2 separate regions of the Homo sapiens genome follow, and region 1 is linked to region 2. The links come from fine-mapping of genetic effects on gene expression. Tissue or cell type: esophagus mucosa. Region 2 holds a variant in brackets; the other region holds the start of a gene. All regions are shown on one strand. Distances are from middle to middle.

Region 1 (8,186 bases), 550 kb before region 2:
GCTAACTATAGCAACAGAATTTGAGTATACTTTCAAAGTTTTATCATTTAAAGCTTACTTCACTATGATGAATTTATAAGCACAGAACTTGAAAGAGTCAGCAAAATGGAAATAATAAATGTTATCGATATGTATTACTTTTCTTAGGGCTGCTGTAACAAATTACTGCAAGCCGAATTGCTTAAAACAACAGAAATTTATTCTTTCACAATTTTGAGGGTCAGAAGTCTAAAATCAAGGTGTTCCAGGGTCAGGCTCCTTCCAAGGTCTCTAAGAAAAACCTTTCCTGGCCTCTTCCAGCTTCCTGTGGTTACTGATAATACTTGATATTCTTTGCCTTTGGTGGTACAACTTCAGTCTCTGCCTCTATCTCCACATGGCCTTGTTCTCGGTCTGTATTTTTCCAAGTCTCTCTCTCCTTAAGCACACCACTCCACTGCTGACATATATTAAGGAAGACCTAAATAAATGGAAAGATATATAATGTTCATAGATCAGAAGATAAATTTGGATCAGATGTCAATTATTCTCTGATTTGTCCATAGAATCAATGCAACCCCAATGAAAATCTCAACAAGACTTTTTGTGGACCTTGTCTAGCTGATTCTAAAATTTATATGAAAATGAGAAGGATTAAAAATGAAAAAACAATTTTGAAGAGGATCAAAGTTGGAAAATTTATACTACCTGACTTTAAGAGTTATTTTAAAGCTATAGTAATCAAGACTCTGTGGCATTGGCTTAAAGAAAGACAAATAGGTAAATGGAATAGGATAGAGTCTAAAAAATGGACTCATAGATATATGTTAATTTTTGGCAAAGGATGCAAAGATTTTTCAATGAAAAAGGGTAGTATTTTCAACAAATGGTGCTAGCAAAATCTGATGACAATGTGTAAAAATGAGAACTTTGATTAGAAAAACCAAAATAAATTATAGAGATAAACGTAAAACCTAAAACTAAAATTTTAGGGGAAAGTATAGAAGATGATAATTTTTGTGATCTCACATTAGACAAATATTTCTTAGTTTTGACATCAATATTATGATTTATAATAGATAACGTTGAAGAACTAGATTCATCAAAATTAGAAACTTCTTCTCTTTGATAGACAGGAGAATGAAAACACAAGCCACAGACTGTCAGAAAATATTTTGTAAACCACATGCGATAAAGGTCTTGGATACAGAATAAAGAATTCTCAAAACTCAGAAATAAGAAAACCAACAACATAATAAAAAAATAAGTAAAATATATGAAGACACTTCACCAAAGAAGATACGTATACACATAGCAAAAAGACATAGGAAAATACGTTCAACATCATTTGTCATGAAGCCACATGAGATATTACTACACATCTGTTAGATAAGCTAAAATTTAAAAGACCATCATAAATGTTGGCAAGGATGTGTGCAACCAGATCTCTTATATACTGTTGTGGTAAAGAAAAGTAGTAAAACTCTTTTGAAAAAAAAGTTTAATAGTTTCTTTTTCTTTTTGAGACAGAGTCTCGCTCTGTCCCTAGGCTGGAGTGCAGTGGCGCGATCAATCTCCACTCACTGAAACCTCTGCCTCAGGGGTTCAAGAGATTCTCCTGCCTCAGCCTCCGGAGTAGCTGGGACTATAGGCGCACACCACCATGCCCGGCTAATTTTTGTATTTTTGGTAGAGACAGGGTTTCACCACGTTAGCCAGGATGGTCTCGATCTCTTGACCTCATGATCCGCCCACCTCACCCTCCCAAAGCGCTGGGATTACAGGCATGAGCCACCGCACCTGGCCTTAATAGTTTCTTAAAAAGTTAAACATACACATTCCATATGATCCAGCTGTTCCACTCCTAGGTACTTACCCAGAAGTAATGAAAACATACGTCCACAGAAAGAGTTGTACATATATGTTCATATCAGTTTCATTTGTAATTGCCCAAAGTTCGAACAACCAAAGTGTCCATCATCAGGTGAATGGACAATTTATAGCGCATATATACAATGAAATAAATTAAAAATTTATTTCATTAAATAAATGAAATTTATTAATTTAAAATAAATTAAAAATTTATTTCTTTGTATATATGAATAAATATTTAAAAAGTAGAATGAACTATTGATGCTAACATAGATGAATCTCAAAAGAACTTTGCTTAGTGGAAGAAGCCAGACCAAAAATACTACCTGCTTTATGATTCCACATACATAATTTTTAAAAATGCAAACTCTTCTATAGTGACATAAAGATCAGTGGTTGCTTAGAGGGTTGTTTCAGTGATGAAAGGAGGTACTGATTACGACGTAAGAAAACTTTTGGGTGATGGAATGATTCATTATTTTGATTTTGGTGATGGCTTCACAGGGAGATACATGAGTCAACATTTATCGAATGATGGATGCACTTTAAGTGCAGTTCATTATATATGTTATACCTCACTGAAGTGGAAACAAATTGGATGTAAGTATCCCACATGTTGACTACTAAAGTTCTCAAGTTTCATCTCTTCAGTAGGCTTCTGTAAAGTAAAATTCTGGTGAGCTTAAAAAAAAACCTAGATCTCTATGCCAAATTAACTTTGAGCAGCATAATAGAAATGCCTGGGGTTTTAGGGCATTTCCAAATCGCAGTAAACTACAGTTTAATTTGTAATAGGACAAGAGGAAGGAAAAAAAAAGAAGAAAAAGCGGTGGGTGGGGAAATCAGGAAAGGAAAGCAAGAAGAAACAGGGGAAGTACACTCGGCAGGGGAATCGGCAAGACTGCACCTACACACTCTCACCCGCCTCTATAGATTCTCTAGGCAGGAGGCTGCAAGTGGATTAAAATGTTACAACGCAAGGCAAGTCCTCCACCGCAAAAACTGCTCCTCCCAGACTTAGCCCAACCAGCTGGAAACTCCGTGCTTGGAGCGTTAAATCGGACGGACACCCGCCCCCTCTCCACCCTCTGCCTTCCAGCTGCGCCGCATCCTGTTCTCCGTCGCCGCCTGGTGGCGAGCTCCCGGGACCCGCAGGCGCTCGGGTGAGGCAGGAGGGAAGGCGCGGGGAACAAAGGTCCCTGCAGTGGAGGGGCGCCTCGTCTACCTCCGGATGCTTTTGCCACGACTCCGTCTTGGCACCAGTCTTGCTGCCCTGGAATGCAGTTTCCCAAACGCAGCGCTCACTCTGACTCCTCTCTGCTTTTATCCGTCAGGTCTCAGTTCTTGCGGGTGGGAGTCGGCTGAAGGAGCTGCGTTATATGGTTGTGACATCACCCTCCCCGGCCCCCATTTTCAGGTCAGAACTTTCATGCCTTTGGAAACGAGGGACCCAGAAGAGCCCTTACTGTAGGAGGAATGTCGCCGTTAGACCTCTAAGCTCCGAAGAACCAAGGGGAGACAGAATCCAGATTGCTTCCTTAAATCCCAAGTAGTATTGTTTTTTCCACCTTAGAGTCCGCCCCCCCGCCCCCACTTGTCCCATATATTGATCGGCCACTTTGCCACCGTGTTCCAAGGTTGGAGAGCGTCACAATGCCCCACCGTCCCCAACTCTCAAGTGGCCGACAGTGGGCAGTCCAGAAGCTGGGACCAGACTCATCTGCCCGAGGGCACAGTAGGAGGGACGGAGGGATCTCCCAAGAGCTCCGAGGGCGAGGTGAGAACCAATTGTGGGGAGGGGGACCTTATAACGGGGCAGTTAGGAACGGGCAGAGGTGCCCCCACCTCCAGCTTTCAACTCAGGCGAGGAAACTTCGAGACCTTCCCGTCCACACCTGATTGACAGAAGGAAGCTGTCGCGGCCCAGGAGGCGAGTGTGGGTGTGCAGAGGTGGAGACAAAACCTAAAAGCACGCAGAGCCGGCGAGGGCTTGCGGTCCTGGACGGTAGGGGTCTGCGTCTGGTGCCACCTTCTCCATCAGGCTGCTTGCTGGGTCCACCAAGCCTGACCCCTCCAGCCAGGAGGGGATCACGGAGTGTGTCCCCCGCCCGGGCTGCTGCCTGCCGGAAGGGGGCTGGGAAACCGGGATCCCCGCGCGCCACTTGCCTGGCAGCGTCAGTTTCACCCAGGACTGGCTAGCGGTTCCCTCGTGGCTCTGCGCGGAGGTCCGCCTCCTCCCTTCCCTCCCCCATCCCGCGCGCTGCCTCCGCCTCCTTCTTCTGCCTCCACCCTCAACCCCCATCCCCGCCTGACGGGAGCTAGCCCTCAGTCCGCCCGAGCTGTGGTTGTGGGCGCCGGACAAGTCCAAGGCGCCTCCTCCCAATATGGACAGCCGCTACAACAGCACTGCGGGCATCGGGGACTTGAACCAGCTGAGCGCTGCCATCCCGGCCACGCGGGTGGAGGTGTCCGTGTCCTGCAGGTGAGGACGCAGCCCTTCCCCTCTCTCCTGCCCTCTCATCTGTGGGGTTGGTAGCACTTGGAGAGCGCTCGGGGTACCACGAGGCTTTGCGCAGGCAAGAAGTTGCGCCATGAGTGGGAAATATCTCAGTAGTGGGGCTGGAGTTACCCCGGGTCAGGTGACACAGGGGAGCGGGAATTAGAAGCGGTGGGCTCCGGGACTGAGACTTTGTATTTTCTTTCTGGGAAACGCTGTAAAAGTTGGCTGGGCTGTGACTCAGCTGTGGGAACACCGGCCGCCGCCCACTTTACAAGCCGGTTTTCCGCCCCAAACCCGGGCTGGATGGTTGGGTGATGACCGGAATCGAAGGGGACAGCACTGCCAAAAGCTCTTGTGACCGCTGCACGCTTAGGCCCGGGACTTCCTCTGCTAGGCGTGTGCAAACCTGCTGTTGCTAGGGTTGGCTCCAACCCCGGCAGCTTCCTCCCCACCCACTTCCTGGAGCCTTCCAGCTTGCTTCTCCCCGACCCTTCCGGGCTTTTTGCCTTTTGCCTGATAGGTAGAGATTTCGGCCCTCCTTGCAGACGAATCTATGCCTTACCTAAGATCTGGGAAGTCACGACTTTTGTTTTGATTTGTTTTCGGGCCCACATCTGAGTGCTTGTAAAAACTGACTCTCGGCCGGGCGCAGTGGCTCAGTACAGTTTATACGCCTGTATTCCCAGCACTTTGGGAGGCCAAGGCGGGTGGATCACGAGGTCAGGAGTTCGAGACCAGCCTGGCCAATATGGTGAAACTCCGTCTCTACTAAAAATGCAAAAATTAGCCGGACGTGGTGGCACGCGCCTGTAGTCCCAGCTACTCGGGAGACTGAGACAGGAGAATCGCTTGAACCCGGGATGTGGATGTTGCAATGAGCTGAGATCTTGCCATTGCACTCCAGCCTGGGCGACAGCGCAAGACTCCATCTCAAAAAAAAAAAAAAAACAAAAAAAAACTGACTTTCAACCCTGTCCAGAGACTGTAAATTGCAAACTCGTTGTCCTGACCTTTCGGTTAGTTGCCCTGTAAATAAAGCAGCATCACCGCTATATCATAGATGATTTTGAGAAGGAGATGAGCGATGGTGCTAAATTGGTACTGGCCACTAATTTGCGAATTAATATTGACCCTGGAGCCCACTCCCTTGTTTGCATAATTGGGTCTGTCTCACTGGAAAACTGGCTCCTCATTTATCCATTTTTGCCCTAAGATTGTTTTTATGCCCTCACATCCTCCCTTTCCTTTCCTTAGCAAACTTGCCTTGAAGATATCTAACAAATTTGGGTGATCTTGATGTAAATAAGTTTAAAATTCCATCAATCTTGACTTTGCATTTTCACAAACTGAGCCTAAAGCCAAAGGAATTCTTTTCTGGGGGTGAAAATTCGAGCACCAGCAACCGTAGTAGAAGTATTATTTGAGGGTAGGGGACAGCCTTTATCTAGCCCTGAAACTATATCACCTGATTGTTTGCCGCCTCTTAAGACTGATCTGGGACTATGGAAATAATCATGCTGATAATGATAGCTATCATTAAGCTCTTGCCTCATTGCTGTCACTGCTTTAAGTGCTGCCTGAGATTTTTCTGTCAATGGAACAGGTGAAGCTGTTTGGAAAACTCTTTAGAGGATTCCTAGGCCTTTTTCTTTTCTCTGAAGCTTGCTTTCGATGTTAGAGGGAAGTTACTGGTATATACAGATAATGGATAGCCGGAAGTCCTACAATAACAGCATTACTAGAGTTCTTATCCTCTGCTCAACAGTCTGCAAAGTCTGAATGGCATGTGGCCTATACTTGGAATGAATATAAAAGAATATTGTCAATCAAGTCTGAATTTTTCCATGAGCTTTTTAAGGGAAATTATACCTAAACTGGTCATTCTGCCAGTAGGGCCCATGTTTAATGCAGCCCCTTTTTTGATGCATGTTTTCTGTGAGTGTGCTGGGCATACTGAAGTCAATTGGCTTAAGGCAATTTGTTTCAGTTTGCTGCCTCAGAACCTGCAAATCCCTTGTTCCAGCTTTTTTTCATAACATTGCTTTGACATTTTGTTTTTAATTTTTAAGATTTCTAACAGGAAAAAAAAATCCTGAAAGAGAACCTGAATACTTAGTGTCAAGCATCTCTGCCAGGGGCACTAGTGCTTAGTCTATTGTTTGAGTTGCTTCTGACTCAGCTTACTATTTACGATAAGTTTGAGGTAAAAAGCATCTTTTGGGCAAAGAGAAACATAATTAAATACCCAAGTTAGTGCCTTTGGAATAGGTTTGGGAATAGTTCCTGAAAAGGTGGGTTAAATTTATTTTTAATACATTAAAATTCAAAGATAAAAATATTTGAGTATTGTTGGATCTTGTAACCATAGGAGGTGGTTTAGTTTGGGCTTTGGCATCAGAGACCTAAGTACAAATTCTGGCTTTGTGACTTGTTCTTGCTACCTTGGAGTAAGTTCTTATTCAGTCTGTCTAAGCATTCTCATCTCCAAAAATAAGAATAGTTATGGTATTTACCTTATATAGAGTGTTATCAAGGTGATGTGTGAAAGCGCTTACACAATGCATGAAACAAAAACATGTTTTCAAAAATGTTAGCTATTATTATAATACTGGAAATAACATTTGTTGAATAAATGTGTTATATATGATTCAGGTATGGAATTCTGTAAAAGTCCTTCTCTTTTGAACTTCAATAAGTTGGTTAAAGAACACAAGGATAGAACCAGCATTGGGATACCTGTTCCCGCTTTCTCTATCTTCTTTGATGTGCATCAAGAACATGTTTTGTAGAAAGGTTGTGGGGATTTCACTTAGCAACAAAGCACAGTTGAAGGCCTCTGAGCCTTGCTATGGGCAGGCAGAGTAAGGAATTCCCTTGCCTTACTATACCAGAGACTTCTGAGGATTTGCCCACACTTCAAAAGCAGCTCAGATTTGAATAGGTTCTTTCTTTCTCATTCTTTATCTTTCTTTCTCTCTCTCCTTTCTTTCTTTCTTTCTTTTTCTTTCTTTCTTTCTTTCTTTCTCTTTCTTTCTTTTCTTTCTTTCTTTCTTTCTTTCTTTCTTTCTTTCTTTCTTTCTTTCTTTCTTTCTTTCTTTCTTTCCTTCCTTCCTTCCTTCCTTTCCTTCCTTCCTTCTTTCTTTTCTTTTTCTTTCTTTCTTTTTTCTTTCTTTCTTTCTTTCTTTCCTTCTTTCTCTTTCTCTTTCTTTCTTTCTTTTCTCTTTCTCTTTTCTTTTTTCTCTTTCCTTTCCTTTTCTTTTCTTCATTTCCTTTCTTTCACCTCCTTTCACTGTCCCCTATCATTAAAAGCTTTATGACAAAGTTTTTATCTTCATTTTGGGGAAGGTGAAAAAGATAAACGATTGAAGCTTGAATATAATTCATGGAAATAATTTAGTCTGTTTATTCATCAAGTGTCTGAGTGCCTTTTATATGTCTATGTTTATGCTAGGGTCCATGAGAAATGCAAAAGAAGTTCTCTGAAAATGTAAAATCTGATTGAGAGATAAACACTACATAAGACACGGTAACGGGGCTAAATTCAAAGATGAGGCTCATGCATGAGGAGGGAAAGGATCATTGTGGAATAGGGTGCTTGGAGTATATTACAAAGGGGAGAGATGGGGCTTGGGCAGAGACAAGCTGGATAGGCATGGTTTGGATTAGAGAAGGGACAGTGGTTAAATTTATAGCCACTTAAATTTGTGTTAAGGGGGTGAGAGGTACCCTTTTCTAGATGTATTTATGCAAAGGCAAGCTCCTGCTATTTGACCTCCTTCGTCTTCTACCCATTGTCTAGCTCTTCTTGCATTCATTTTCTTTTATTGTATAAATT
Region 2 (8,186 bases):
AGTTAACTTACACAATTTTTTAAGTAGAAAAAAAGTTTTACTGAATACAGTTAAGATAGTTGGAAGCTGGGGTCCTAATTTCCTCCCCAATTTAGAAAATGAAAGAGATATTGGGGATACATTTAAGAGTGAGCCAGGAAAAAACTCAGACTCTCACTTCTACCATAGCATTTTCAAGTAAGAAATCATACAGAAAACTGCTATAATATTGGCAACACGGAGTGAGATTATCAGTAAGGGAGGAAAACAGTATTTTATTTATCAATCAAGAGGAAGTCCCACATGCTCCCAAGTAATACTTTTCATCATACTCCTTTTAATAACCAGAGGATGTACCTTTTAGTGCTGTGGTACCAAGTCAGCCCTTAGTAAGTGTGGAGCCTATGAATGTCAAGTAAAGAAAGCTGTCAAAATGGAATCAGAATCCTTTGAAAATATTCACCTTTGCAGTGATGTCACTCTAACTGTGCAATGCTTTTAACTTTTTAAAGTGTTTCTAAATATTAAGCATGCCAAGCTCTGAATTCTAAGATACAATACCTCAATAGATTCAAATCTTAGTGGATTGGACCTTGACCTGGATATAAGGCTTTCCCTTTTACTAAAACTGAATTTAGACATAAAAGCTTTTTTTCTCTTTCACTATGCAATAGGAAACTTGACTTACTTAGTGTCTAGCATCAGCTACTACTTTAAGAAACATTTTCTTGCCAGGATTTTGATACCCTTTATTAGTGTCTGCTGACTGGTAGAGAACATATATGAGGGAGAAATGCTCAGAAGATTCTAGCTTGTGGCAAATCTGATAGGAAACAGGTCAAATATAAATCATAGCATTGACAAGGAAGACAACTCTAATTAGCATTTCTATTTATGCTTAATTTTTCAGCATGTTAAGAGAGGGAACATGAAGATGAAACTGTAACTGCTTGGTGGCAAAAATAATCTGTTTTCTGGCAATTTTTGAAAGCATCAACTAAAATAAGAAATTATTAAATATAGATATAAGTTATTTTATATCATACTTATGTAAGTATCAAATTTTGATTAAGGTCACCTTTAACCCATAAAAGAAAAAAACTAATATGAATGGGTCAAGAAGAATAATAAAATGATAGGGGAGACTCAGGAAAACAATGGATGTTATTATGTAATAGTAAGACAAATCACTGAGTTAGGATTCAGGAGGACTGAATGTTTGTTTTAGCTCGGCTGCTACATGGCTATTTGATTTTAGGCAAAGTGGTCACTTCATCTCTTGGATTCAATTTCTCCATCTGTTACATCGGGGTCACAGCATCTGAGATCTTTTCCATCTTTCAGTTTCTCTGAATACATAAGAAGAAATAACACAGGTCAAAACATTTTGAAAAATATAAAACTCTACACAAGAGCAAGGTGTTACTGTCATTGGTGAAATTTCTTACCTAAAGACAACAGGGACAGATTTCACAGCTGTTACTGACAAGTGGGGAGATTCTGCAGGTGGGTCATGTAGACATGCTGCTTCAGGCTGAGCCTTGCAGGAGTGAGGAACTTCACACCCAAATAACTGCTAAGAGAAACAGTGCCATTGATGGCCTCCATGCCTGGGAGTCTTTACAGCAATGTACACAGGACTAGGAGGGCAATGTTGCAAAACCTCATAATCTTGTAGCCCCTTCTTGAAAGCAGAAATATAATAGGACAATTTCCATAGCAGAATTTTACTTCTTTTAGCCTCCAAAAAGATCAAAGAATTCCCAGGCATCTCTACAGATTAGCCTTTTTCAACTGGCCTTTCTAGCCCTTTAAGAATCAGCATTCTCATGAACATAGGCTTCTTTATTCCTTAAGAAAAAAAGATGAACAAAATGTGATTGGTTATTATTTACTAATGTTTACATACATACACTTCATCTGAGAAGTCTCAGCTCCAAATGCAGTTGATGAGGGCTGGAAAAGTGACAAAATGAACACTTGTTTCACTTCAAGTTTCCCTAGGCCCTTCTTCCCTACTGTCCCCACCCCCTTGCCCCCCACAGCTATTTAAAAGATGTCATTTTTATTTATTTATATACTCATTAAATAGGTAATAATTTACATGATCATCAAAATGATATAAAAAATCTATTAAAAAGTTTGCCCTGTTGGATATCCCCTCTCACCACTCCTATTCAACACAGTGTTGGAAGTTCTGGCCAGGGGAATCAGGTAGGAGAAGGAAATAAAGGGTATTCAGTTAAGAAAAGAGGAAGTTAAATTGTCCCTGTTTGCAGCTGACATGATTGCATATTTAGAAAACCCCATCATCGCAGCCCAAAATCTCCTTAAGCCGATAAGCAACTTCAGCAAAGTCTCAGGATACAAAATCAATGTGCAAAAATCACAAGCATTCTTATACACCAGTAACAGACAAACAGCCAAATCATGAGTGAACTCCCATTCACAATTGCTTCAAAGAGAATAAAATACCTAGGAATCCAACTTACAAGGGATGTGAAAGACCTCTTCAAGGAGAACAACAAACCACTGCTCAAAGAAATAAAAGAGGATACAAACAAATGGAAGAACATTCCATGCTCATGGGTATGAAGAATCAATATCATAAAAATGGCCATACTGCCCAAGGTAATTTATAGATTCAATGCCATCCCTATCAAGCTAACAATGACTTTCTTCACAGAATTGGAAAAACTACTTTAAAGTTCATATAGAACCAAAAAAGAGCCCACATTGCCAAGACAATCCTAAGCAAAAAGGACAAAGCTGGAGGCATCAGGCTACCTGACTTCAAACTATATTATAAGGCTATAGTAACCAAAACAGCATGGTACTGGTACCAAAACAGAGATATAGACCAATGGAACAGAACAGAGCCCTCAGAAATAACACCATATATCTACAACCATCTGATCTTTGACAAATCTGGCAAAAACAAGCAATAGGGAAAGGATTCCCTATTTAATAAATGATGCTGGGAAAACTGGCTAGCCATACGTAGAAAGCTGAAACTGGATCCCTTCCTTACACCTTATACAAAAATTAATTCAAGATGGATTAAAGACTTAAATGTTAGACCTAAAACCATAAAAACGCTAGAAGAAAACCTAGGTAATACCATTCAGGACATAGGCATGGGCAAGGGTTTCATGTTTAAAACAGCAAAAGCAATGGCAACAAAAGCCAAAGTTGACAAATGGGATCTAATTAAACTAAAGAGCTTTTGCACAGCAAAAGAAACTACCATAAGTGAACAGGCAACCTACAGAATGGGAGAAAATTTTTGCAATCTACTCATCTGACAAAGGGCTAATATCCAGAATGTACAAAGAACTCAAACAAATTTACAAGAAAAAAACAACCTCATCACAAAGTGGG[T/C]GAAGGATATGAACAGACACTTCTCAAAAGAAGACATTTATGCAGCCAACAGACACATCAAAAAATGCTCATCATCACTGGCCATCAGAGAAATGCAAACCAAACCTCACTGAGATACTATCTCACACCAGTTAGAATGGCGATCATTAAAAAGTGAGGAAACAACAGGTGCTGAAGAGGATGTGGAGAAATAGGAACACTTTTACACTGTTGGTGGGACTGTAAACTAGTTCAACCATTGTGGAAGTCAGTGTGGCGATTCCTCAAGGATCTAGAACTAGAAATACCATTTGACCCAGTCATCCCATTACTGGGTATATACCCAAAGGATTATAAATCATGCTGCTATAAAGGCACATGCACACATATGTTTATTGAGGCACTATTCACAATAGCAAAGACTTGGAACCAACCCAAATGTCCAACAATGATAGACTGGATTAAGAAAATGTGGCACATATACACCATGGAATACTATGCAGCCATAAAAAAAGATGAGTTCATGTCCTTTGTAGGGACATGGATGAAATTGGAAATCATCATTCTCAGTAAACTATCATAAGAACAAAAAACCAAACACTGCATATTCTCACTCATAGGTGGGAATTGAAGAATGAGAACACATGGACACAGGAAGGGGAACATCACACTCTGGGGACTGTTGTGGGGTGGGGGGAGGGGGGAGGGATAGCTTTAGGAGATATACCTAATGCTAAATGATGAGTTAATGGGTGCAGCACACCAGCATGGCGCAGGTATACATATGTAACTAACCTGCACATTGTGCACATGTACCCTAAAACTTAAAGTATAATAATAATAAAATAAAATAAAAGATTAGACAAAACAGTGATACCTAAATATACTTATAATAAATTACTCATTTTTTAAAATAAAACAGTGGAAATACAAAAAAAAAAAAAAAGAAAATGTGACACATATACACCATGGAATACTATACAGCCGTAAAAAAGGATGAGTTCATGTCCTTTGTAGGGACATGGATTAAGCTGGAAACCATCATTCTCAGCAAACTATCCCAAGAAAAAAAACCAAACACCGCATGTTCTCACTCATAGGTGGGAAATGAACAATGAGAACACTTAGACACAGGAAAGGGAACATCACACACTGGGGCCTGTCATGGGGTTTGGGGAGTGGGGAGGGAAAGCATTAGGAGATATACCTAATGTAAATGAGGAGTTAATGGGTGCAGCACACCAACATGGCACATCTATACATATGTAACAAACCTGCACATTGTGCACATGTACCCTAGAACTTAAAGTATAAAAAAAAAATTGAAAACAAAAAGTTTGCCCTGTCCATCCAATTTATCTCCTGAGCCTTGCAATCAGCCTTTTTAGTTGCTTCTATATCTATTCAGTGTTTCTTTATATGTATCAACACATCTGTTTGCATGTCTTCTTATTTATCTTCTTTATCACACAAAAAGGTTATGTGCCCAATACATTCTTGTGCTCCTTGTCCCCAAACTTTTCTAATATAGCCTGCCATTTATGCACTTTGTAATGTAATGGTCACATGGTCCCATTTATAGTAAGCAGAAAAAGCCGAGTCTGATTCATTGAAAGGTTATTGCCCTTCTGAGGAGGAAATTAAAACTATGTAGCAATCTTAATTTTAAAGTAAATTGTGGTGCTGTGGCATAGCTGTGACCCTAAGCAACAATCTCATCTAACAGTCTTAGAACATTCTGTTGGCATTTGATATCCTTAATAGCCCAAAGAAACCACATAAAAGTGCTTTAAAAAAAGACTTGTTGAATTCAATTAAATTTAGAAGAAACTTGGCTGTTTTGCTTTTGTTTCACTTTTGCTTTAGTTTAAAAACTGTGAGGATGAGGCAAGTAGCTTAGATGTTAAAACTTAAGTAATAAACAGATGGGGAGAAGACATAAGTGTGAAAAACTGTCAGTCTATCCATCCATTCATGCATGCAGCAAGAATTACTGAGCTCCTGCTATACTCCAGAAATGATTCCACACCCTGGGGATACAGTGGTAAAAATGCCAAGCTCATAACAGCTTGATGCCTGTATTCTAGGCTCTAGCATATTCTGTTACCCTATACAAAGGCACTATGACCTGCCACCAAAATTACTGCTCTGCCTCCTATCTCATTTCCTCATTTCTATCCATCCAGCCTTTGGTCTACACTCATAACAGCAGCCAGATTTGTTCTGTTAAAAAACAAAGGCCAGATGATGTCATCCCTACTCAAAATCCCCTGATAGTTTCTCATCCCCTTTGAGTAAAAGCCAACGTTCTTATAAAGCTTACACGATCTAGCTCTCTTACTGATCAGTGAAACTACATAATGATACATTTGGATATAAAACATTATAAAGACTATGAAAAATGTAGAGTAATATATAACAGCATTTCTCTTTCCACTGAGCAATATTAAGTACTTAGTGTGTACAGATTACTGATGCTACCTCTTTAGATTCCAGGTATGAGAACGGTTATGGCTGAGTACTAAGTGCAGGCATTGGCTTAAGTAACCATAGATTTCCTTTCATAAAAGCATTGACATATTTAATGGAAGTGGTAGATAAACATTCATTATTTCTGCTGTACCATTGTCCTATCTATCCATTAAGAAAATACGCAAGAAAGCACAGCAGAAAAAAAGTTGGTTGAAAATAGTAGATTTAGGCAAGACTGAATTGAAGATCTTTAATTCTTTCCCTTGGAATTTCTCAGAGTTCAGAGACAGGCTCAATAATAAAACAATTCAATGCCTTAAATGAAATATAAATCAATGCCTTAAAAAATACTGTTTTATTTTGCAAATGAATGAAAAGATCCCAACTTTATGTTTCCCAAAACATCGAAAAGAGGATTAAAAAGGTGGTTGGCTATATTTTTTTCCAAACAGAGTCACATATTAAATGTTACAGATAATTTTCAGCCAACTGACAGGAAGACTTTTAATCTATAATAGTTTTATATCCTTCCATGTAACTTTTGGTAAAGTGGATTATACGGCTAGGATTTCCAGACAATATACTAAAAACAAAACCACTCTCAATTCCTTGAAAGAAAATAGTTCATACTATTTACCATGGCTGCATTCTGAATTTTAAATGCAAATAGTACGTTTATGCAATGACACTCAAAAAATCTATTGAATGAATTAATAAACAAATAGATCCAAATAAGTCTTTCTTGCATATTGATTAGTGGAAAGAAAACAAAGAACCAGAACCATCTAGGAGATTTACCTATATTTGGGATAGGAACCTCTCTTCCTCTGGAATTCCTTGCAGGGACATGCATTTAAGTTGCGCTTTAGATCCCACGAAGCAGCATGGGGGTGCAGAAAGAGAAGGCTGGTGGTGGTCAAAGACTCCTGAGCTCATATCATGGCATCCTGTTTGCTAGCTGACAAAGTGATCTTATGTGTGTTAGTTCTGTGGTTCCATTTTGCTATCTATAAAATTTGCCTAACACTACCTCCCTTACAGAAACATAGTGAGGATAAAGGAGATAACATCTGTACAGATCTCATGGTCTTTGCATTTAAGTTCTCTCTCATTGAAATACTCTTTTCTCAACACATTGCTTAGCTGTTTCCTTCTTTTTATATTTTTTCCATAGGTTATTGGGATACAGGTGATATTTGGTTACATGAGCATGTTCTTTAGTGGTGATTTGTGAGATTTTAGTGCACCCATCATCCAAACAGTATACATTGCACCCTATTTGTAGCCTTTTATCCCTTGCCCCTCTACCACTCTTCCCCCCAAGTCCCCAAAGTCCATTGTATCATTCTTATGCCTTTGCATCCTCATAGCTTAGCTCCCACATATCAGTGAGAACATACAATGTTTGGTTTTCCATTCCTGAGTCACTTCACTTAGAATAATAGTCTCCAGTCTCACCCAGTTTGCTGCAAATGCTGTTAATTCATTCTTCTTTTTCTCTGGGTAGATACCCAGTAGTGGGATTGCTGGATCAAATGGTAGTTCTAATTTTAGTTCTTTAAGGAATCTCCCCACTGTTTTCCATAGTGGCTGTACTAGTTTACATTCCCACCAGCAGTGTAGAAGTGTTCCCTGATCACCCCATCCACACCAACAGCTACTGTTTTTTTGATTTTTCGATTATGTCCATTCTTGCAGGAGGAAGGAGGTACTGCATTGTGGTTTTGATTTGCATTCCCCTGATAATTCGTGATGCAGAGGAGTTTTTCATGTTTTTTGGCCATTTGTATATCTTCTTTGAGAATTGTCTATTCAGGTCCTTAGCCCACTTTTTGATGGGATTGTTTGTTTTTTTCTTACTGATTTGTTTGAGTTCATTGTAGATCCTGGATATTAGTCCTTTGTCAGATGTATAAATTGTGAAGATTTTCTCCCACTTTGTGGATTGCCTGTTTACTCTGCTGATTGTTCCTTTTGCTGTGCAAAAGGCTCTTTAGCTTAATTAAGTCCCAGCTATTTATCTTTGTTTTTATTGCATTTGCTTTTGGGTTCTTGCTCATGAAATCCTTGCCTAAGCCAATGTCTAAAAGGGTTTTTCCAATGTTATCTTCTAGAATTTTTATAGTTTCAGGTCTTAGATTTAAGCCCTTAATCCATCTTGAGTTGCTTTTTGTACAAGGTGAGAGCTGAGGATCCAGTTTCATTCTCCTACTTGTAGCTAGCCAATTATCCCAGCACCATTTGTTGAAAAGGGTGTCCTTTCCCCACTTACTGTTTTGGTTTGGTTTGTTGAAGATCAGCAGGCTGTAAGTATTTGGGTTTATTTCTTGGTTCACTATTCTATTCCATTGGTCTATGTGCCTATTTTTGTACCA

What was found. PIP is the estimated chance that this variant, and not a neighbour inherited with it, causes the effect.
Region 1: CPNE8 starts here. The variant in region 2 is fine-mapped to the expression of CPNE8 in esophagus mucosa (GTEx, PIP above 0.99).

Annotation. Positions count from the first base shown.
Region 1 is chr12:38,901,584-38,909,769 of GRCh38, reverse strand. CPNE8 (copine 8) reads left to right here and starts at 4,179. Exons shown (of 20, transcript NM_153634.3): 1 at 4,179-4,333. The coding sequence starts at 4,236. CPNE8-AS1 (CPNE8 antisense RNA 1) reads right to left here and starts at 4,058. Exons shown (of 2, transcript XR_007063275.1): 1 at 2,773-4,058; 2 at 178-460. RefSeq lists an enhancer at 2,635-2,894 and a silencer at 4,025-4,194.
Region 2 is chr12:38,348,193-38,356,378 of GRCh38, reverse strand. No RefSeq gene overlaps it. Among named protein-coding and RNA genes, the nearest start is that of ALG10B, 36 kb to the right of the region's middle. RefSeq lists an enhancer at 5,550-5,629. The variant T/C (reference allele first, on the strand shown) is at 3,361.